3 separate regions of the Homo sapiens genome follow, and all the other regions are linked to region 1. Evidence: fine-mapped expression QTL. A gene starts in region 1. Each other region holds a variant in brackets. All regions are shown on one strand. Distances are from middle to middle.

The links. PIP is the estimated chance that this variant, and not a neighbour inherited with it, causes the effect. A credible set is the group of variants that fine-mapping cannot tell apart.
Region 2: its variant is the best candidate, but not a certain one, in a credible set for the expression of IGF1R in monocytes after LPS (Quach 2016, PIP 0.84).
Region 3: its variant is the best candidate, but not a certain one, in a credible set for the expression of IGF1R in lung (TOPMed, PIP 0.69).

The regions. Positions count from the first base shown.
Region 1 is chr15:98,644,701-98,651,233 of GRCh38, forward strand. It overlaps IGF1R (insulin like growth factor 1 receptor), which reads left to right and starts at 3,839. Exons shown (of 21, transcript NM_000875.5): 1 at 3,839-4,975. The coding sequence starts at 4,882. It overlaps IRAIN (IGF1R antisense imprinted non-protein coding RNA), which reads right to left and starts at 6,087. Exons shown (of 1, transcript NR_126453.2): 1 at 1,163-6,087. RefSeq lists an enhancer at 1,941-2,562 and silencers at 2,574-2,623, 2,634-3,103, 3,164-3,223, 3,594-3,863.
Region 2 is chr15:98,540,148-98,547,559 of GRCh38, forward strand. No RefSeq gene overlaps it. Among named protein-coding and RNA genes, the nearest start is that of IGF1R, 100 kb to the right of the region's middle. The variant C/A (reference allele first, on the strand shown) is at 3,918.
Region 3 is chr15:98,958,955-98,966,366 of GRCh38, forward strand. It overlaps IGF1R (insulin like growth factor 1 receptor), which reads left to right. Exons shown (of 21, transcript NM_000875.5): 21 at 1-5,576. Among named protein-coding and RNA genes, the nearest start is that of PGPEP1L, 45 kb to the right of the region's middle. The variant G/T (reference allele first, on the strand shown) is at 3,240.

The sequences.
Region 1 (6,533 bases):
CTCCTTTTGATTTACATTTGGGTTGTTTTAGTTTTTGCTATTATGAACAAAGCACCTATTGACATTCCCATAGAAGTATTTTTGTGGAATTTTCATTTCTTTTGGGTAAATAACTAGGGCTAGACTTGCTGGATCGTAAGTTAGTTGTATGTTTTACCTTATAAGAAACTGTCAAACAGTTGACATAATGCACTCTTAATGAAGCTTATTACCTGTGAAGTGAGGTCTTTTAAATTTTTTGTCTTTTGATTTTTGTCTTAAATTGCATCGATATTAGATGTGTGGACATTCTTCTGAAATATCTTAAGGATCAGACCTTGATTAACTGTGTTATTTTAGTAGATCTTTAATGCTTCTGAGTTATTTATACGGACAGCTCGAAATCTGAACGACTCCCATTGGAAAACCAGAATGATCTCTTTCATGGATCTCTCCCATATTTTTATTTATCTTCTTTAATGTTTTATACATACAAAAATATGTAGAACATGTGTTAGTTATTAAGCATACTTATAAAATGGAAATTTGTAAATCCGTCACTCAATCCAAGAGTGAACTCATTTCCAAATTACAATGGAAACCCATGTGCCTATGGGCTTCTCATCCTCTCCAAAGGAATTCACATCCTTCATTAATTCTTTTGCTAAAACAAAAGCAAAACAAAGGAAAAATATTATTTTATTATTTAAAGCAAAAAAAATTTTCTGTAACTTTTAAAGTTTTCCTTGCTTTTTAAGAGCTTTATCAAAATGGTGTTACGCTGTGTGCGTTTTTGATATTTGTATATTTTTACTCAGTGTGTTTCAAAGATCTGCCCATGTTGTGTGGGGCTGTAGTTTATTCACTTTTGCTGCTAACATTCCTTTCTGCGAATACATCACAATATACTGTATTACTTGATACTTGTCAATTGTTGTGCTGTTTCTCACGTTTGCACTTGATGTATATGATATACATTACATTTTTTGGGGAGTCTGGTACATTTAGCAGAATAATTTGAGATGAAACTGTTATCAAGTAAACGGCGTTTTTAAAAAATGAAAACAAGCAATCAGTTTCTGCTCCAAAAGAGGGAGAACCTATAAGATACCTGAGTAAAATGGTATAAAATAAAAAGTTTGGTGCATTGTCAATGTGGGTATAAAGCAAAGACTCCAATTAATTTTTGTCTACATGATTTTATTTCAAGGTTGAAAAAATAAGTTTGACTTGTGTATGTAAAATATAATCATTGAAGAAATACAAATCACCTCCTTTGTCCATGTGGTCAAGTTAGAGCGTAAAGACAACCTAAATTTTTGTTCCTTTTTTTTCCCTAAATATTAAGCTATATAATGATACATCTCCCACTTCACTGTTTAAAATAACTTAATACGATTGATTTCCTACTACTTCAGGAAAACACAAACATTTAAAAAATTCACAAATAAAAATCATTTTAGTAAAAAAAAAACACACAAAAACAAATCCTACAACCCCTACAACAACCTATATACATTTAAAAATTCTATAGACCTCTTTATGTTCTTGGGGACAAATAAACAGGCATATTTATTACTAATACTAAAAATACATTGGGTAGTATTTGAAGATTTTATATTAGCACTAGCCTTTTAAAAATCAGCTCTAAATTTTTGTCTTACAAGTATGTATTAAAAATTCTGAAATCAAGTATAATGAAATTATATATCAATATTCCTTTGCATTTAACTCCAGAGTGGATCTGCAGGAATCAAGACCAACCTCATGCAGAGAACTTAAGAAATATTTAAAAATTAGTAGACTGGACTTTAATTCTTCATGTGTAGTGCCTAATTTTTAAATAATACATTTTAAGATTCTAATAAATTTATTTCACTGTTAAATCTAGGAACATCCAAAACTGAAACTCTTTATTTAAAAATCAAGCTGAATTTCAGTTAAACAAAACCATCCCATCATATGAATAACTTTCTTAGGTAAAACAAGGTTTATTTTCTTTCTATACAACTGACTCTGAATTGAGCTAGAAATTTCCAAGGAGGAAAATGATCTAGGAAACAACTTTAGAAAAAAAGGGCTAAGTTTCCGTTATGATAGCTTTTGACTTGTTTTCAGCTCTTAAAAAATTATTTACGAACGATGGATACACGTTCTAATGCAGAAGTATTTTAGAATTAGAGAGTAAAAGAAACCTACTACCTTCCTTTACATCAGGTCCCTTCTACCATCCTACCCGATTGTTTGAGACAACCACTTCTTATCTCGACAATTCACAACTCTTTTATTAGCTATCTTAAAAAAATTTATTACTGGCATCAATTAGCCTGAGTCATGAAACCGGACCACATTAAGGGCGACACATGGTCCAATCACTGTTTGTAAAAGTCCACGTATTTCAAACTCCTCTCTCCTGCCACTGCTGGGCTGTTTCCCTCTTTGAGGACCTGGTCTCCGCAGCATTTATTCATTAGATGGCAGTCCTAGGGGAGTCTCGCTTTGGGGAAACCTCTCCTCCTGCACATTCAAGAAAACAACCGCGGAGACTTAGGGTCGGTACTGGTTTCCAGTCACTTACGTAGCAAACGAAGCAAGAGGAACGTGCCTGGGAGGACCCGAGACAGGTGCGGGTGGGTTTCCGCAGTAGCCGCTGATCCCGAGTGCATGCGGCGTGTTCCCGGGTCGGGACCGCGGCCAAGGGAGGCTTCCCGGCCCCAGCCTCCACCCCCTCCTCGGCGCCCCGGGACCCGGACACGCCCCCCGAGCTTCGGAGACCCGCAGCGTGCACGCGCCCCGGCCGCTCCCCGCAGCCGCCCACGTGGTGGAGCCCTGAGCTGCGCGAGGCCGCGGAGAGCGCTCAGGGCGGGCGGCTGGTCCGGGAGGCCACGCCAGCGCGACCCAGCCGAGTCGGCCCCCAGCCCGGGCCCCCACATTTCCTCCCCCGGAGGGAGGGAGGCGACTCTCCGCGGGCTGCCCTCCCCAGCGCCCGCCGCGCCCTCTGGCGGCCGCCGCGGGGACGCGCCCGGGGCACGCGGCGCTGCCTGTCTGGGCCCCCCTTCCGGGGCGCGGGGCCCGCGAGGGGCGGCGGGGTCCTCTCTCCTCGAGCCACTCTGGGCCGAGCCACACGGGCCGCGCCCTTCCCCCTCCGCTCCCCCTGAGCCCCCAAACTCCGGGCTCCACGGTCGCAACGCCGCGGGCACCCCAGCCTGGCGTGAAAGTGCCCGGCGTAGTAGCCTGGGGGGGGGGTCCCCTTTCTCCCAGGTGCGCCCCTTCCGCCACGTTCGGGCTTTCCAGTACGCAGCGAAAAAAATGCCGCATGCACGCATTTATTTATTTTGCAACAGCTGCAAGAAACAATGAAGCTTTTCAAGAACCGGGGAAACGCGCTTTCCAGCCGCGCTGTTGTTGTTTTCAATGAACCTCTCCCAGCCCCGCACTCCCCGCCCACCCCTCCCCTCTCCTGCCCACCCCTCCCCTGCCTAGCCTTTCCCTGGCTACCCACCCCTGCCCCGCCGAGACCGGACCGGCGGCGGGGGCATTGTTTTTGGAGTCGGGCGGGAGGGGAGGGCGCGTGCGGGGTGGCCGGCGCAGTGCGGTGGGGGCGGGAGCGGGTGGGCACGCGCGCGTGTCTCTGTGTGCGCGCGGGAGGCGGTGGGGCGGGAGATGGGGGCGGCGCCTCGCAGTCTCGCGCCCCACGCCCGGGCTCCGCTCCGCACGTCTTGGGGAACCGGGCTCCGGTTTTTTGCGCGCGCCGGCCTGGGCCGGGCCCTCGGCGCGCCGCTGCTGCGGCGGTGGCCGCTCGAGTGTGCGAGCGGGCGCGTGTGCGCGGGCCAGGGCGCGCGCGCGCGCGCGAGCCCCCAGTGTGTGGCAGCGGCGGCGGCGGCGCGGCGAGGCTGGGGCTCTTGTTTACCAGCATTAACTCCGCTGAGCGGAAAAAAAAAGGGAAAAAACCCGAGGAGGAGCGAGCGCACCAGGCGAACTCGAGAGAGGCGGGAGAGCGAGAGGGACGCCGCCAGCGAGCCTGCCCACGGCCGGCGCTCGCAGACCCTCGGCCCCGCTCCCCGGATCCCCCCGCGCCCTCCACGCCCCTCCCGCGCGGGGGCAGCTCCACGGCGCGCCTCGCCTCGGCTGTGACCTTCAGCGAGCCGGAGCCCCCGCGCAGAGCAGGCGGCGGCGGGCGGGGGCCGGGCGGGGGCCGGCGCGGGGCGGGCGGCGGCGCAGAGCCGGGCGGCGCGGCGGGAGTGCTGAGCGCGGCGCGGCCGGCCCGCCGCTTTGTGTGTGTCCTGGATTTGGGAAGGAGCTCGCCGCGGCGGCGGCGGCGCTGAGGGAGGAGGCGGCGGCGAGCGGAGCCAGGAGGAGGAGGAGGAGGGGGAGCCGCTCATTCATTTTGACTCCGCGTTTCTGCCCCTCGCCGGCCTCGCCTGTGACCCGGACTTCGGGGCGATCTTGCGAACTGCGTCGCGCCCTCCCGCGGCGGAAGCTCGGGCGTCCGGCCGCCTCCCGCGCGGCCAGGGCCGGGCTTGTTTTTCCTCGCCTAGGCAGATTTGGGCTTTGCCCCCTTTCTTTGCAGTTTTCCCCCCTTCCTGCCTCTCCGGGTTTGAAAATGGAGGCCGACGACGCCGACAGCCCGCCCCGGCGCGCCTCGGGTTCCCGACTCCGCCGAGCCCTGGGCCGCTGCTGCCGGCGCTGAGGGGCCGCCCCGCGCCGCCCGCCCCGTCCGCGCACCCGGAGGGCCCCGGCGGCGCCGCCTTCGGAGTATTGTTTCCTTCGCCCTTGTTTTTGGAGGGGGAGCGAAGACTGAGTTTGAGACTTGTTTCCTTTCATTTCCTTTTTTTCTTTTCTTTTCTTTTTTTTTTTTTTTTTTTTTTTTGAGAAAGGGGAATTTCATCCCAAATAAAAGGAATGAAGTCTGGCTCCGGAGGAGGGTCCCCGACCTCGCTGTGGGGGCTCCTGTTTCTCTCCGCCGCGCTCTCGCTCTGGCCGACGAGTGGAGAAAGTGAGTATGTGCCCGCCGCCCGCGGCCACTGCGGGAACTTTTCCTCCGAGGGGCTGCGCCCTGTTTGCGAAACCCGAGTTGCCACCGTCGCAGCTGTCGGGCCCCCGGGCTCGGGAGCGGCGGGGTGGGGCGCAGGGCGGCTCTGCCGGGAGGGAGGCTGCAGCGGACCCGGGACCCGGGCTCGTTCGTCTGGAGCCCCGCGGGCCCTGGCTCCGCGCATCCCCGCGCGGGAAGGGCTTTTCTCTTTCTCCGTCCTGACAGCCCAGCCGTGTTTCCCGGCTAGGCGCGAGGACTCGGTAGGGAAGTTGGTGCCGGGGCGGGCTCCGCGGTTCCCGGGCCCCGCGACCCGCACCTCGCCCCTTCCATGCGCAAGAGCCTCTCCGCACACAGCGCTGATCCCCTGCGGCGCGCAGGCAGCAGCGACAGCACCCTGGGCCGCACCGCGTCTCCGCTGCTGGGGCTGACCGGGCAGTGGGGAGCGGGCAGCCGCCCGGCCCGCGGGGTGCGAGTTGCCCTCGAGGGGGGAGGTGCCCTGCGGAGAGGCCCCGAAGCCCCAGGACACGTCTCCAAGCGCCCGTCGCTGCCTCCCGTCGCCCAACGTGCTTTTGCCCCTCGGGCTCCTCGGGTTCCTGGCCTTGCCCGTCACTTTGGCCCGCTCCTCGTTGGGTTACCTGCCCCCGGCGTCCCGGGGCTGGGCGGTGGGGTGAGGGGAAGCGCTCTCTGGGCAGCCCCCCGGGAAGTGCGAGGCCGGGAGTCTTCCTCAGCTTGTCTCTTCCGGGGAGCGCCACTGGGTCCCCAGTTCAGAGGGCTCTGGGATGGTCTCCCAGTTTCTCCCGGGCCGGGGGATGGAGGGGTACTAGGGCCGCATCCGAGTGTGCGTTGGTGGGTGTGTGGTCGGAGCCGACGTGCATTCCGACACACGTGCTCGCAGCGCGGGGTGTAGTCGCCGCCTCACGGGGACACCTAGACGCCCGTCCCTGGCGAGAGGTGTCGTACGCTGTGGTTTCAGCGCCAGGGTCTGCGGCGGCGCGGGGAGGGTGTTGTGTTTTGCGAGCGCGGAGCCCTGGCCTTGGTTTTGTTGTGGTCGGCGTCGTGTCGCCCTCTCTTCTGCCGCCCCGCACTTCCTTTGTACGTAGTTAATAAGCAGTGTCGCTCCACATTCGCTGTCTTTTGCAATCTGATAGCTTTTGTTTTGGTGGTGTCGGGTGGGGGTTAGTAGGGAAGCGCGGGGATGCGGGGAGCGAGAACTCCCCCCGGTGTCTACGGCCGGAGGAGGTGGGGGTTTTATTCTTCTGAAAAAGTTGAAAGTGTGGCTTACTGGTACATTCAAGATGGTAGGGTAATTTGAACACGATTAAAAGTTTAAATGTCGCAGAACTGGGACTGGGAACGGTGAGGGCGTGTTGGTGAGTAATGGTTGCCGAGGGTATGCAGGTGGTGCCGATTAACTTTGAAAAAATCACGACTGAGCCTTCACGAGTGAGGCGGGGAAGGAGGAGGCAGCGGAGGTTGTATGGCCCCATCACCGGGGCAATTCAGAAAGGCTGTTTCTATAAAC
Region 2 (7,412 bases), 100 kb before region 1:
ATTACAGGCATGAACCACTGTACCCGGCCACTTTTTTTTTTTTTTTTTTTGAGAGAGGGTCTTGCTTTCATGCCCAGGCTGGAGTGCAGTGGCTCCATCACAGCTCACTGTAACCTCGAACTCCTGCGCTCAAGCAATCTTCCTGCCTCAGCCTCCTGAGTAGATAGGACTACAGGTGTGCACCACCACACCCAGCTAATTTTTAAAATTGTTTGGTAAAGACAGGGTCTCATTATGTTGCCCACGCTGGGCTCTTAAATTTATAAAAGATGTTTGATGAAGAAAGTTTCAGAACACCCTACAGGTGTCTGGACAAACGTAGCTCATGGAAAGACAAAATGGTTCCACTCTTGTGGAGGGCAATCTGGTACTTAAACATTTATCAGAATGGCTAATGTACTACTGTTGCCCGGTGATCCCACCTCTGGGAATTCAGTCACAGCTGCACATGGACAAAATTATGCATGAACAAGATCCATCATCGTAACATTATCACAAGGAGGAATATTGGAAACATCTCAAGTGTCCATCAATGGGACAGCGGTTAAATAAACCTTGTAACACTATGCAACTGTCAGAAAAAATGAATGAGGGGTGTTCTGTATCCTAATAAGGAAAATTCTCCATAGTATAGTCAGGGGGGAAAGCAAGTCTTAGAATAGTATGCTATCTTTTCTGAAAGAAAAGGGAGACATAAGATTGCATATTCATGTTGGCATGTATTTGCATAAACAACACAAGAATAATACACAGGAAACTAATAAAAGTGGTTATGGGGATGTGGGATGGAACAGAGTAGCCAGCGGTGGGGCAAGGACTGAGACTTTTGGTCTGCATCTGGTCCCGAAGGGGAATCCAAAGTCTTCCCAGAGGAACCAAGTGGATGAATTAAATTTCAAATTAAAAAAAAAACAACAGGGTTGGGCGTGGTGATGGTGGCTCACACCTGTAATCCTAGCACTTTGGGAGGCTGAGGCAGGAGGATCATTTGAGACCAGGAGTTCAACACCAGCCTGGCCTCAATATCAAATAGTGAGACCCCCGTCTCTACAAAAATAAAGAAATTAACCTGGCGAGGTGGTGAACCTATAGTCCCAGGTACTTGAGAGGCTGAGAGGGGAGGATCACCTGGGCCCAGGAGTCGGAGGCTGTAGTGAGTTGTAATCACACCACTGCACTCCAGGCTGGGCGACAGAGCAAGACCTTGTTTCTAAAAACAAACAAACAAATAAACAAAACAATAAAAACAACCAAGCAAGCAATCAAATTTAAAAAAGAAAAAGTCAGTAGGAAGAAATTCAAATGAGAAAGAACTTGCTCTGAATGTCTGCTCCATCCTCCAGATCTTTAATCTGAGTTCCATCCCTCATTCTGTCAAAACTCCACAAGGAGTTCCAAGTTTGGGGTTGGTGATTCCTGAGAAAATCGGTTACAGCTGATTTGCAGGTTTAGCATGGCTATTTGTGCAGTCTAAACGTCCAAGCCAGATTTCTACAAGACAGTAAGATTACACCACAACGGCGGGAGCACACGTATATGTCTCTCCTATTTCTGATGTTATGTTGTAAATATTTAAAATAAAGCAATCCAGCCGGGCGCGGTGTCTCATGCCTGTAATCCCAGCCCTTTGGGAGGCCGAGACGAGTGGATCACTTGAGGGCAGGAATTCGAGACCAGCCTGGCCAACATGATGAAATCCCGTCTCTATTAAAAATACAAAAATTCGTCAGGCGTGGTGGAGTGCACCCTGTAGTCCCAGCTACTCAGGAGGCTTGCTTGAGAATTGCTGGAGCCCGGGAAGTGGAGGTTGCAGTGAGCAGAGATCGCGCCACTGCACTCCAGCCTAGGCAACAGAGAGAGATTCCGTCTCAAAAAAAACAAAAATAAAAATAAATAAATAAATATCTAAAAATAAAAATAAAATAAAGCAATCCTTATGATGTTTTAAAAGACTATGAAAGGTGTATTTACAGGGTAGTTCCTGCCGTGTTTTCTGAGCCGGTATCGCAGGGAAGGCTCTGCGTCAGACCTCAGGGCCCCCTTGCTACTAGGAGAACCAGCAAAGTCCCCGTGGGCTGGGTCTTCCCCGGCATGCTCAAGCCACTCACCTTCATATTCTGTGCCCTGGCCACGCAGGTCTGTTGATTTCTTGCCTTCACCTCTGCTCTGCTAGATACTGTTCACGCTGTTGTCTCCCTTCCCTCACTACCTGACAAGTTGACTTCTGTCCACACCTCAGGTCCCAGCTGAAGAGCCTCTCTTCACACAAAGCACACCTGTGGTTGCCAGGGCCTGGGGTGGGGGTCCTGGAAAATGACTGCTCAGCGGGACAGAATTTCTTTCTGGGTTGATAAAAATGTTCTGAAATTAGATAGTACTGATGGTTATAAAACTCTGTGAACTGCAAAACTTTAAGAGGTGAATTTTATAGTATGTAAATAATACTAAATCATTCTTTAAAAATCCCTTCTTAACCGGATGCAATGGCTCACACCTGTGGTCTTAGCTACTTAGGAGGCCGTGGTCGGAGGATTGCTTGAGGCCAGGAGTTCAAGATCAGCCTGGGCAACATAGTAAGATCTCCCATCTCTACCAAAAAAAAAAACCATTAAATTAAATTAGCTGGGCATTAGTGGCATGCACCTATAGTCCCAGCTACTCAGGAGGCTGAAGTGGGAGGATCACCTGAGCCCAGGAGTTTGAGGCTGCAGAGAGCTATGATTGCACCACTGCACTCCAGCCTAGGTGACAGAGCCCTGTTTAAAAAAAAAAAAAAAAAAAATCCCTTCTTCAAGGAAGTCCTCCTAGGTGCACCTGGACCCTCTACCTCAGAGGACCCTGTGACATCCATTACAGCAGATACCACAATTATAGAGAGTAATGGTGTTACTGGTTACTAAATGCAGTAGGATACTGAGAGCATGGTAGGAGGGGTACACTGGCAATAATTTAAAAACAAGAATAAAACAAACCAAAAATTGATCTTCTCTTTACCATGCCATGCCCTGGCAGTTCTAAATAACATCAGTGATAAAAGTCACCTCCCCTCCTCAAATATTCTTTGGTTTAAGTTCTAAACAATTGCAGGGACTACTGTTGAGTTTGAGTGATATGCATGTAAGCTTCAAATTAACACATTCTAATTACTTATCCTTTAATAAGCATTATCATTCTACATGTAACTTAATTCAGAAAATTCCTAATTACAGCCAGTCCTCCACAGATGAACCCAAGCAATAGGGTTTGTTTGTTTGTTTTTGAGATGTTTGTTACTATAACAATGTGGAGTGGCTCAGCTAGCATTTCCCGCCCTGTGATACTATTTATGCCTGCTGCCTTTAAAGTGTAGAATCAAAGTAAACACTGATAGCACACTGATAATGGAGAAAGAAAACAGAATTTGATGTAGCTCAATTCTCTCACTCTATGTAACTGTGTGAGTTTTGATTTGTGTTTTAAAATTTGAAACAGTGAAACAGTGAGAAGTACAAGGTGTAATATTTTTGTTTGATGAATGCAAATTTTAGTCCATGCATAAAATATTTGACTAAATTTGACACTTAAGTTTATTCTTTTCTTCTAATTGTTGTTGGTTTTAAACTAAAGGACAAGGCCGGGCACAGTGGCTCACTCCTGTAATCCCAGCACTTTGGGAGGCCAAGGCAGGCGGATCATGAGGTCAGGAGATTGCGACCACCCTGGCTAACACAGTGAAACCCCATCTCTATTAAGAAATACAAAAAATTAGCCGGATGTGGTGGTGGGCGCCTGTAATCCCAGCTACTCAGGAGGCTGAGGCAGTAGAATGGTGTGAACCTGGGAGGCAAAGCTTGCAGTGAGCAGAGATAGTGCCACTGCACTCCAGCCTGGGCAACAGAGCGAGACTCTGTCTCAAAACAAAACAAAACAAAACAAAA[C/A]AAAACTAAAGGACAAATTTTAAAAAATTGTTACATTAGTAATTGACTAAACTCTACCTTTTACACAATTTGGTTTTATTAAAATTCACTTACTAGTTACTGAACACTTACATAAAATAATATTACATGAGACTGTAACCAAAATATCAACGTTTAATCTTTAGTAAATATAAAACTGATTGAATAGCTGGATTGAGTTTTTTCCCTTTTTTTGCATGATAACTTATTTTTATTCATTTTATTGACAAGATTATGTAAAGATTCAATATAAGGAAATTTCCAGTGTTTGCATTTATTTTCTATTTTTGTTATTAATTTTGTTATGATTATTGCTAAAAAATAATTTAAGCATATAGAGATTATTTTCTAACACTCCCTTTATTAAACTGTAATATTCATGAAGAATATATTAATGAGCTACAAACATGCTTTACATTTCTAAATATTCTTAATGTATATCAAATACATAATAAGTACGTATATTTTGAAGAATATTCATATTCATTTAAAATATCTAAAAACTGGTTTAATGCAAGGCTTTGGTAAATTGCTAAGTTTGGTGAATTGTTTGGTGATTTAGCCATTCAGTGATTTGTTTTTTGCCCCGTGAGACAGATAGTTTTATCATTACTTCCAAGGGAAAACTGAGGTATAAGGTATGTAAACTATTTGTCCATGGTCAGAAAACCAGTAAGAAGAGCTATGATCTCAATCAAGATCTTCTGATTCTAGCCATTATACTATATTGCTTCCTCACATACCTCCCATTAAAACTAAAGTTGACCATGAAATACCATCCAGCTATAACTTCACCAGAAATGCTGCCTCGGTGAGAATGAATAGCCACATGGGACTACAGACCCCCGTCTACACACCTATGAGTCCAGCTCCCACTTCAGCCTAGTCATCAAGAATTAGAGATCACACGGAGGCAACCCATCAAATGCCCATCAAGTGTCCAAAGTGGTTCACTGGGTCCATGTTCTGAGCCAGGTTTTTGATCATGTTAGGTTCATTCCTGCCTCAGGGCCTTTGCACACACAGTTTTTGTTGTTGTTGTTGTTGTTTTGGTTGTTTTTGTTTTTGAGATGGAATCTTGCTCTGTCACCCAGGCTGGAGTGCAGTGGCATGATCTCGGCTCACTGCAACCTCTGCCTCCTGGGTTCAAGTGATTCTCCTGCCTCAGCCTCCTGAGTAGCTGGGACTACAGGAACACGCCACCATGCCTGGCTAATTTTTGTATTTTTAGTAGAGACAGGGTTTCACCTTATTGGCCAGGCTGGTCTGAAACTCCTGACCTTGTGATCTGCCCACCTGGGCGTCCCAAAGTGCTGGGATTATAGGTGTGAACCACCGCACCCGGCCTGTTTTGTTGTTTTGTTTGGGCCTGGCTTTCCCCTCTGGCTTTTGAAATAACTCTTCCTCATGTTACCTCCTCAGAGAGGCTTTCCTTGACTACAATATCTAAAGTTACTCCTCCCAACCACTAACCATTGTCCTAGTGCTTTGTATTATTTCTATGCACCATTCATCCATCTATATTTCTTTCTTTCTCTTTTCTTCTATGTTATCAGCGACTTGTATAGAATAGATTCCTAATAAGTATTTATTAAGTTATTGAAAGAATGAGGCCAGGCACAGTGGTTCATGCCTGTAATCCCAGCAATTTGGGAGGCTGAGGCAGGCAGATCTCTTGATGCCAGGAGTTGGGATATCAGCCTGGGCAACGTGGCGAAACCCTGTCTCTACCAAAAAATACACAAATTAGCTGGGTGTGATGGTGTACGCCTGTAGTCCAGCTACTAGGGAGGCTGAGGTGGGAGAATCACTTGACCTCAGGAGGCGGAGGTTGCAGTGAGCTACAGTGGTGCCACTGTACTCCAGCCTGGATGACAGAGAGAGACCCTGTCTAAAAAAAAAAGGAAGAAAAGCATGAAGAGATTAATCACAGTGCTAAGGACTCCTCTGAGGTCACATCCAGGCTCAGTGGGGCAGAGCACTGAGAAATGAGCCTGTGCTGTCATACGTAGGATGTGGGGAGGCCTGGCTCACCAGCACCTGAGAACCCTGACTTCCATATTATCCATAACGGGGGTACAGGCTAGGGCTTTCCCCCATCAGCACCCAGCAACACACTACCATCTATCCATTCACAGGTGGGAGTCTCCAGGAGGGGAAGCAGGTAAGGCACAGGCAGGGCCCTGCGCAGGTGGAGACTGGTTTTGTGTCTGGGGTTTGTTCCTTCTGGTGGGTTCCTGGTCTCGCTGCCTTCAAGAATGGAACCGCAGACCTTCACAGTGAGTGTCACAGCCCTTACAGATGGCACAGACCCAAACAGTGAGCAGCCGCAAGACTTAATGTGAAGAGCAAAAGAACAGATATCCCACAACATGCAACGGGACCCAAGCAGGTTGCCTCTGCTGGCTGGGGGGTAGCCAGCTTTTATTCCCTTATCTGTCCCCGCCCATGTCCTGCTGATTGGTCCATTTTACAGAGTGCTGATTGGTCCATTTTACAAACCTCTAGCTACAGAGCGCCTATTGGTGCATTTTTACAGAGCACTGATCGGTGCATTTTACAAACCTCTAGCTAGCTACAGAGCGCCCATTGGTGCGTTTTACAATCCTCTTGTAAGATATAAAAGTTCTCCAAGTTGCCACCCGACCCAGAAGTCCGGCTGGCTTCACCTCTCAGTTTCGTGTTCTACTCCAATACCATCTGTACACCTTCATGCGGGGATTAGGGATTTGACAGGTGAATAGGTTACTCAATAGCGTTCAGAGTTCATAAACCAAGACTCTACCTGCTTCCCACAGCCTGCGTTCATGGGAAAGAGGCAAGAAAATAAAACCAGCCTCAGCTATATCGAATCCTTTCCTTCCCCTCCCAAGTCATTAACAAAGACTGACACTGTAGTATTTATCAAAAAATCTTGTTCCCTAAGTGGTGATACAGAATAATTATCTCAGCATGCAATCAGCTCAGCGATCTTCTTCAAAGCAATTTGTGGCAAGGATATGCAGTTTTTAAATAGATTAAATTTTCAAGAGCTTGCCTCTGAAACCTGGTCAGAATGTATTTACAACTCACCTGGTGAGATGATGCGTATCTTAAGCTGGAATTCTCTTTCGTTAGGTCTTGCTTAATTGAATCAAGCAAAGTCATTTTGGGATCGTCCCAAAAGAAACCCTTTTATCTCAAGGCAAATGTGTTTTAACAAGGCCCTAAGGTGAATAAAAGCTAGGTTTCCACTCACCGGAGCTCTCTGCTCCTCCTTTCAAAAGCCTACCACTCTACTTCATTTGTTTTTCTTTTAAGTGAGGAAATTGCTTATGGAGTTAACTGTTGCCAGTGAAAGCAACAAGTTGCCTCTCCCCTCCTCTACTCTTAAGAAACACCTTGTTTCCCTCCCTCTCTTCCTTCCTTCTTTTAAAATAAATAAGTTATGCATAGCTGGAGCGTGCATGCAATGCTCAGGCGTGGTCCTGGTATAGC
Region 3 (7,412 bases), 310 kb after region 1:
CGTAGGCTCTCTGGGCACGAGGCAGAAAGCAGGCCGGGCACCCATCCTGAGAGGGCCGCGCTCCTCTCCCCAGCCTGCCCTCACAGCATTGGAGCCTGTTACAGTGCAAGACATGATACAAACTCAGGTCAGAAAAACAAAGGTTAAATATTTCACACGTCTTTGTTCAGTGTTTCCACTCACCGTGGTTGAGAAGCCTCACCCTCTCTTTCCCTTGCCTTTGCTTAGGTTGTGACACACATATATATATATTTTTTTAATTCTTGGGTACAACAGCAGTGTTAACCGCAGACACTAGGCATTTGGATTACTATTTTTCTTAATGGCTATTTAATCCTTCCATCCCACGAAAAACAGCTGCTGAGTCCAAGGGAGCAGCAGAGCGTGGTCCGGCAGGGCCTGTTGTGGCCCTCGCCACCCCCCTCACCGGACCGACTGACCTGTCTTTGGAACCAGAACATCCCAAGGGAACTCCTTCGCACTGGCGTTGAGTGGGACCCCGGGATCCAGGCTGGCCCAGGGCGGCACCCTCAGGGCTGTGCCCGCTGGAGTGCTAGGTGGAGGCAGCACAGACGCCACGGTGGCCCAAGAGCCCCTTTGCTTCTTGCTGGGGGACCAGGGCTGTGGTGCTGGCCCACTTTCCCTCGGCCAGGAATCCAGGTCCTTGGGGCCCAGGGGTCTTGTCTTGTTTCATTTTTAGCACTTCTCACCAGAGAGATGACAGCACAAGAGTTGCTTCTGGGATAGAAATGTTTAGGAGTAAGAACAAAGCTGGGATACGGTGATTGCTAGTTGTGACTGAAGATTCAACACAGAAAAGAAAGTTTATACGGCTTTTTTGCTGGTCAGCAGTTTGTCCCACTGCTTTCTCTAGTCTCTATCCCATAGCGTGTTCCCTTTAAAAAAAAAAAAAAGGTATTATATGTAGGAGTTTTCTTTTAATTTATTTTGTGATAAATTACCAGTTTCAATCACTGTAGAAAAGCCCCATTATGAATTTAAATTTCAAGGAAAGGGTGTGTGTGTGTGTATGTGTGGGGTGTGTGTGTGTGAGAGTGATGGGACAGTTCTTGATTTTTTGGGTTTTTTTTCCCCCAAACATTTATCTACCTCACTCTTATTTTTTATATGTGTATATAGACAAAAGAATACATCTCACCTTTCTCAGCACCTGACAATAGGCCGTTGATACTGGTAACCTCATCCACGCCACAGGCGCCACACCCAGGTGATGCAGGGGGAAGCCAGGCTGTATTCCGGGGTCAAAGCAACACTAACTCACCTCTCTGCTCATTTCAGACAGCTTGCCTTTTTCTGAGATGTCCTGTTTTGTGTTGCTTTTTTTGTTTTGTTTTCTATCTTGGTTTCCACCAAGGTGTTAGATTTCTCCTCCTCCTAGCCAGGTGGCCCTGTGAGGCCAACGAGGGCACCAGAGCACACCTGGGGGAGCCACCAGGCTGTCCCTGGCTGGTTGTCTTTGGAACAAACTGCTTCTGTGCAGATGGAATGACCAACACATTTCGTCCTTAAGAGAGCAGTGGTTCCTCAGGTTCTGAGGAGAGGAAGGTGTCCAGGCAGCACCATCTCTGTGCGAATCCCCAGGGTAAAGGCGTGGGGCATTGGGTTTGCTCCCCTTGCTGCTGCTCCATCCCTGCAGGAGGCTCGCGCTGAGGCAGGACCGTGCGGCCATGGCTGCTGCATTCATTGAGCACAAAGGTGCAGCTGCAGCAGCAGCTGGAGAGCAAGAGTCACCCAGCCTGTGCGCCAGAATGCAGAGGCTCCTGACCTCACAGCCAGTCCCTGATAGAACACACGCAGGAGCAGAGTCCCCTCCCCCTCCAGGCTGCCCTCTCAACTTCTCCCTCACCTCCTTCCCTAGGGGTAGACAGAGATGTACCAAACCTTCCGGCTGGAAAGCCCAGTGGCCGGCGCCGAGGCTCGTGGCGTCACGCCCCCCCCGCCAGGGCTGTACCTCCGTCTCCCTGGTCCTGCTGCTCACAGGACAGACGGCTCGCTCCCCTCTTCCAGCAGCTGCTCTTACAGGCACTGATGATTTCGCTGGGAAGTGTGGCGGGCAGCTTTGCCTAAGCGTGGATGGCTCCTCGGCAATTCCAGCCTAAGTGAAGGCGCTCAGGAGCCTCCTGCTGGAACGCGACCCATCTCTCCCAGGACCCCGGGGATCTTAAGGTCATTGAGAAATACTGTTGGATCAGGGTTTTGTTCTTCCACACTGTAGGTGACCCCTTGGAATAACGGCCTCTCCTCTCGTGCACATACCTACCGGTTTCCACAACTGGATTTCTACAGATCATTCAGCTGGTTATAAGGGTTTTGTTTAAACTGTCCGAGTTACTGATGTCATTTTGTTTTTGTTTTATGTAGGTAGCTTTTAAGTAGAAAACACTAACAGTGTAGTGCCCATCATAGCAAATGCTTCAGAAACACCTCAATAAAAGAGAAAACTTGGCTTGTGTGATGGTGCAGTCACTTTACTGGACCAACCCACCCACCTTGACTATACCAAGGCATCATCTATCCACAGTTCTAGCCTAACTTCATGCTGATTTCTCTGCCTCTTGATTTTTCTCTGTGTGTTCCAAATAATCTTAAGCTGAGTTGTGGCATTTTCCATGCAACCTCCTTCTGCCAGCAGCTCACACTGCTTGAAGTCATATGAACCACTGAGGCACATCATGGAATTGATGTGAGCATTAAGACGTTCTCCCACACAGCCCTTCCCTGAGGCAGCAGGAGCTGGTGTGTACTGGAGACACTGTTGAACTTGATCAAGACCCAGACCACCCCAGGTCTCCTTCGTGGGATGTCATGACGTTTGACATACCTTTGGAACGAGCCTCCTCCTTGGAAGATGGAAGACCGTGTTCGTGGCCGACCTGGCCTCTCCTGGCCTGTTTCTTAAGATGCGGAGTCACATTTCAATGGTACGAAAAGTGGCTTCGTAAAATAGAAGAGCAGTCACTGTGGAACTACCAAATGGCGAGATGCTCGGTGCACATTGGGGTGCTTTGGGATAAAAGATTTATGAGCCAACTATTCTCTGGCACCAGATTCTAGGCCAGTTTGTTCCACTGAAGCTTTTCCCACAGCAGTCCACCTCTGCAGGCTGGCAGCCGAATGGCTTGCCAGTGGCTCTGTGGCAAGATCACACTGAGATCGATGGGTGAGAAGGCTAGGATGCTTGTCTAGTGTTCTTAGCTGTCACGTTGGCTCCTTCCAGG[G/T]TGGCCAGACGGTGTTGGCCACTCCCTTCTAAAACACAGGCGCCCTCCTGGTGACAGTGACCCGCCGTGGTATGCCTTGGCCCATTCCAGCAGTCCCAGTTATGCATTTCAAGTTTGGGGTTTGTTCTTTTCGTTAATGTTCCTCTGTGTTGTCAGCTGTCTTCATTTCCTGGGCTAAGCAGCATTGGGAGATGTGGACCAGAGATCCACTCCTTAAGAACCAGTGGCGAAAGACACTTTCTTTCTTCACTCTGAAGTAGCTGGTGGTACAAATGAGAACTTCAAGAGAGGATGTTATTTAGACTGAACCTCTGTTGCCAGAGATGCTGAAGATACAGACCTTGGACAGGTCAGAGGGTTTCATTTTTGGCCTTCATCTTAGATGACTGGTTGCGTCATTTGGAGAAGTGAGTGCTCCTTGATGGTGGAATGACCGGGTGGTGGGTACAGAACCATTGTCACAGGGATCCTGGCACAGAGAAGAGTTACGAGCAGCAGGGTGCAGGGCTTGGAAGGAATGTGGGCAAGGTTTTGAACTTGATTGTTCTTGAAGCTATCAGACCACATCGAGGCTCAGCAGTCATCCGTGGGCATTTGGTTTCAACAAAGAAACCTAACATCCTACTCTGGAAACTGATCTCGGAGTTAAGGCGAATTGTTCAAGAACACAAACTACATCGCACTCGTCAGTTGTCAGTTCTGGGGCATGACTTTAGCGTTTTGTTTCTGCGAGAACATAACGATCACTCATTTTTATGTCCCACGTGTGTGTGTCCGCATCTTTCTGGTCAACATTGTTTTAACTAGTCACTCATTAGCGTTTTCAATAGGGCTCTTAAGTCCAGTAGATTACGGGTAGTCAGTTGACGAAGATCTGGTTTACAAGAACTAATTAAATGTTTCATTGCATTTTTGTAAGAACAGAATAATTTTATAAAATGTTTGTAGTTTATAATTGCCGAAAATAATTTAAAGACACTTTTTTTTTCTCTGTGTGTGCAAATGTGTGTTTGTGATCCATTTTTTTTTTTTTTTTTTAGGACACCTGTTTACTAGCTAGCTTTACAATATGCCAAAAAAGGATTTCTCCCTGACCCCATCCGTGGTTCACCCTCTTTTCCCCCCATGCTTTTTGCCCTAGTTTATAACAAAGGAATGATGATGATTTAAAAAGTAGTTCTGTATCTTCAGTATCTTGGTCTTCCAGAACCCTCTGGTTGGGAAGGGGATCATTTTTTACTGGTCATTTCCCTTTGGAGTGTAGCTACTTTAACAGATGGAAAGAACCTCATTGGCCATGGAAACAGCCGAGGTGTTGGAGCCCAGCAGTGCATGGCACCGTTCGGCATCTGGCTTGATTGGTCTGGCTGCCGTCATTGTCAGCACAGTGCCATGGACATGGGAAGACTTGACTGCACAGCCAATGGTTTTCATGATGATTACAGCATACACAGTGATCACATAAACGATGACAGCTATGGGGCACACAGGCCATTTGCTTACATGCCTCGTATCATGACTGATTACTGCTTTGTTAGAACACAGAAGAGACCCTATTTTATTTAAGGCAGAACCCCGAAGATACGTATTTCCAATACAGAAAAGAATTTTTAATAAAAACTATAACATACACAAAAATTGGTTTTAAAGTTGACTCCACTTCCTCTAACTCCAGTGGATTGTTGGCCATGTCTCCCCAACTCCACAATATCTCTATCATGGGAAACACCTGGGGTTTTTGCGCTACATAGGAGAAAGATCTGGAAACTATTTGGGTTTTGTTTTCAACTTTTCATTTGGATGTTTGGCGTTGCACACACACATCCACCGGTGGAAGAGACGCCCGGTGAAAACACCTGTCTGCTTTCTAAGCCAGTGAGGTTGAGGTGAGAGGTTTGCCAGAGTTTGTCTACCTCTGGGTATCCCTTTGTCTGGGATAAAAAAAATCAAACCAGAAGGCGGGATGGAATGGATGCACCGCAAATAATGCATTTTCTGAGTTTTCTTGTTAAAAAAAAATTTTTTTAAGTAAGAAAAAAAAAGGTAATAACATGGCCAATTTGTTACATAAAATGACTTTCTGTGTATAAATTATTCCTAAAAAATCCTGTTTATATAAAAAATCAGTAGATGAAAAAAATTTCAAAATGTTTTTGTATATTCTGTTGTAAGAATTTATTCCTGTTATTGCGATATACTCTGGATTCTTTACATAATGGAAAAAAGAAACTGTCTATTTTGAATGGCTGAAGCTAAGGCAACGTTAGTTTCTCTTACTCTGCTTTTTTCTAGTAAAGTACTACATGGTTTAAGTTAAATAAAATAATTCTGTATGCATTTCTGTCTCTGGTTTGGTTTTGTCCCTCCTGGAAGCATCACTACACTTTGGTGGCAGGGAAGCTGAGCTATGTGGGGCACGTGTGTTCACGCATGTTGCCTGGAAGCGTTCTCCAGAAAAGCATTGCCTCTTCTCTGACAGCTGAGCTTTCTCAGCATGCAGATTGCCAGTAAAGACGACAGGGAAGCTATCTGTTTCTCCCTCCATTAAATCATCTGGAAAGAAATTTGAATACATAAATTACGAAACTCTGTACTGCAGTTCCGACTGATTTGTAGACTTTTTTCCTATACCTTCCACTAACAACAGTCAGGCCAAGGCAAGTCTGATCTGCATGACCCCAAGGCAGAGGACTTCAGTTCTTCACATTTCCCATGTGCTTTTTGGTCTTTCACAGCTGACATGCCCACCTCGGGGGGATGCTGGTGAGAACCCAGTGGGCCTCACGCAGAATGTGGGTCACTGGAGGAGCTCCAAAGTCCTAGTTACTTTCTAGCTGCTGCTCAGTGATCTCTGTCTGCCCCTAGGGACCCTACAATGTAAACATTATTTTTGTCAGGGGAAATGGCATGTATGGCAAGGTGTGTTCTAGAATCAGACTAAGGATTCAGACACATCAGGCAGAGAAGCTGGTCATTTCCTTCAACTTTATCATGGGAAATTATGCTCCAATAGCAAAATCGGGCCAGTAGAAGAAGAGCTGTCCAGCAATGTATAGGTAGAAGTAAACCGAAGACCATGGTTACTTCAGACCTGTTGAGCCTCAGAAGTGTTTGCACCTAAAAGCAAAGGCCTTTCTGAAAGGGGACTCTCAGCTGGGGTGCGGTGGCTCACGCATGTAATCCCAGCACTTTGGGAGGCTGAGGTGGGTGGATCACATGAGGTCAGGAGTTCAAGACCAGCCTGGCTAACATGGTAAAACCCCATCTCTACTAAAAATACAAAAAATTAGTGGGACATGGTGGCGGGTGCCTGTAATCCCAGCTACTTGGGAGGGTGAGGCAGGAGAATCTCTTGAACTCAGGAGGCAGAAGCTGCAGTGAGCCAAGATTGTGCCACTGTACTGCAGCCTGGGTGACAGAGTAGGACTCTGTCTCAAAAAGGGTACTCAAGCTTGGCATTGCTTCAGGGTTACTGCTCAGTGTTGTCACCGAGTGCCTGGCACTCAGGGGATCTTCATTAGGTGACTGATGATGAGGAGGTCTCAATTCTGAGGCTGGAAAGCCCAACAGGGCCTCCTCCTTCCCTGGTCAGGTAGATGCTGCCCTTCCAGGTTGCCACAGTGCAGTCTGCACTTGGCCTGCCCAGCCAGAAGGAGCAGCAATATCTAAGGATGAAGGTGCTGGGTCTTCAGAAGCATTAGAACCTTTCCCCTCCAGGCCATTTCTTAAGACTGCAAGCCCTCAAGAGCTATTTCTGCATTTACCCCCCAAGTCCAGGTATGAGTCCATACTCACTCAGATGTGTGATTTTTGTAGTGTTCTAATGTTGCTAAAAAGACCTTCACATCCATTCTCTCACCAGATGTTCACAATCACCCTGCAAAGGAAGGATTTTAATTACTCTTACAGATGAGCAAACATACAGGCATGCTCAAGACCCCTCCCCCGCCCCCCCACCTCCCCACCAGCTACCAACTCAGGACTCAGCCTCTCAGCCTTTTCTGCTGTGGTTCTCAATCTGGCTTCAGCACTGCCAGAACTAAGCAGGCTCTGTGCATACTGACAAGGGATGCTGGGTGAAGTACACAGCCCAGGTGTGAATGAGACTTCTGGGGTTCTCCCTGGAGAACTTCAGGGGCCACAGCGGGGGGAAATGATGGGGAAGTTCTTGAA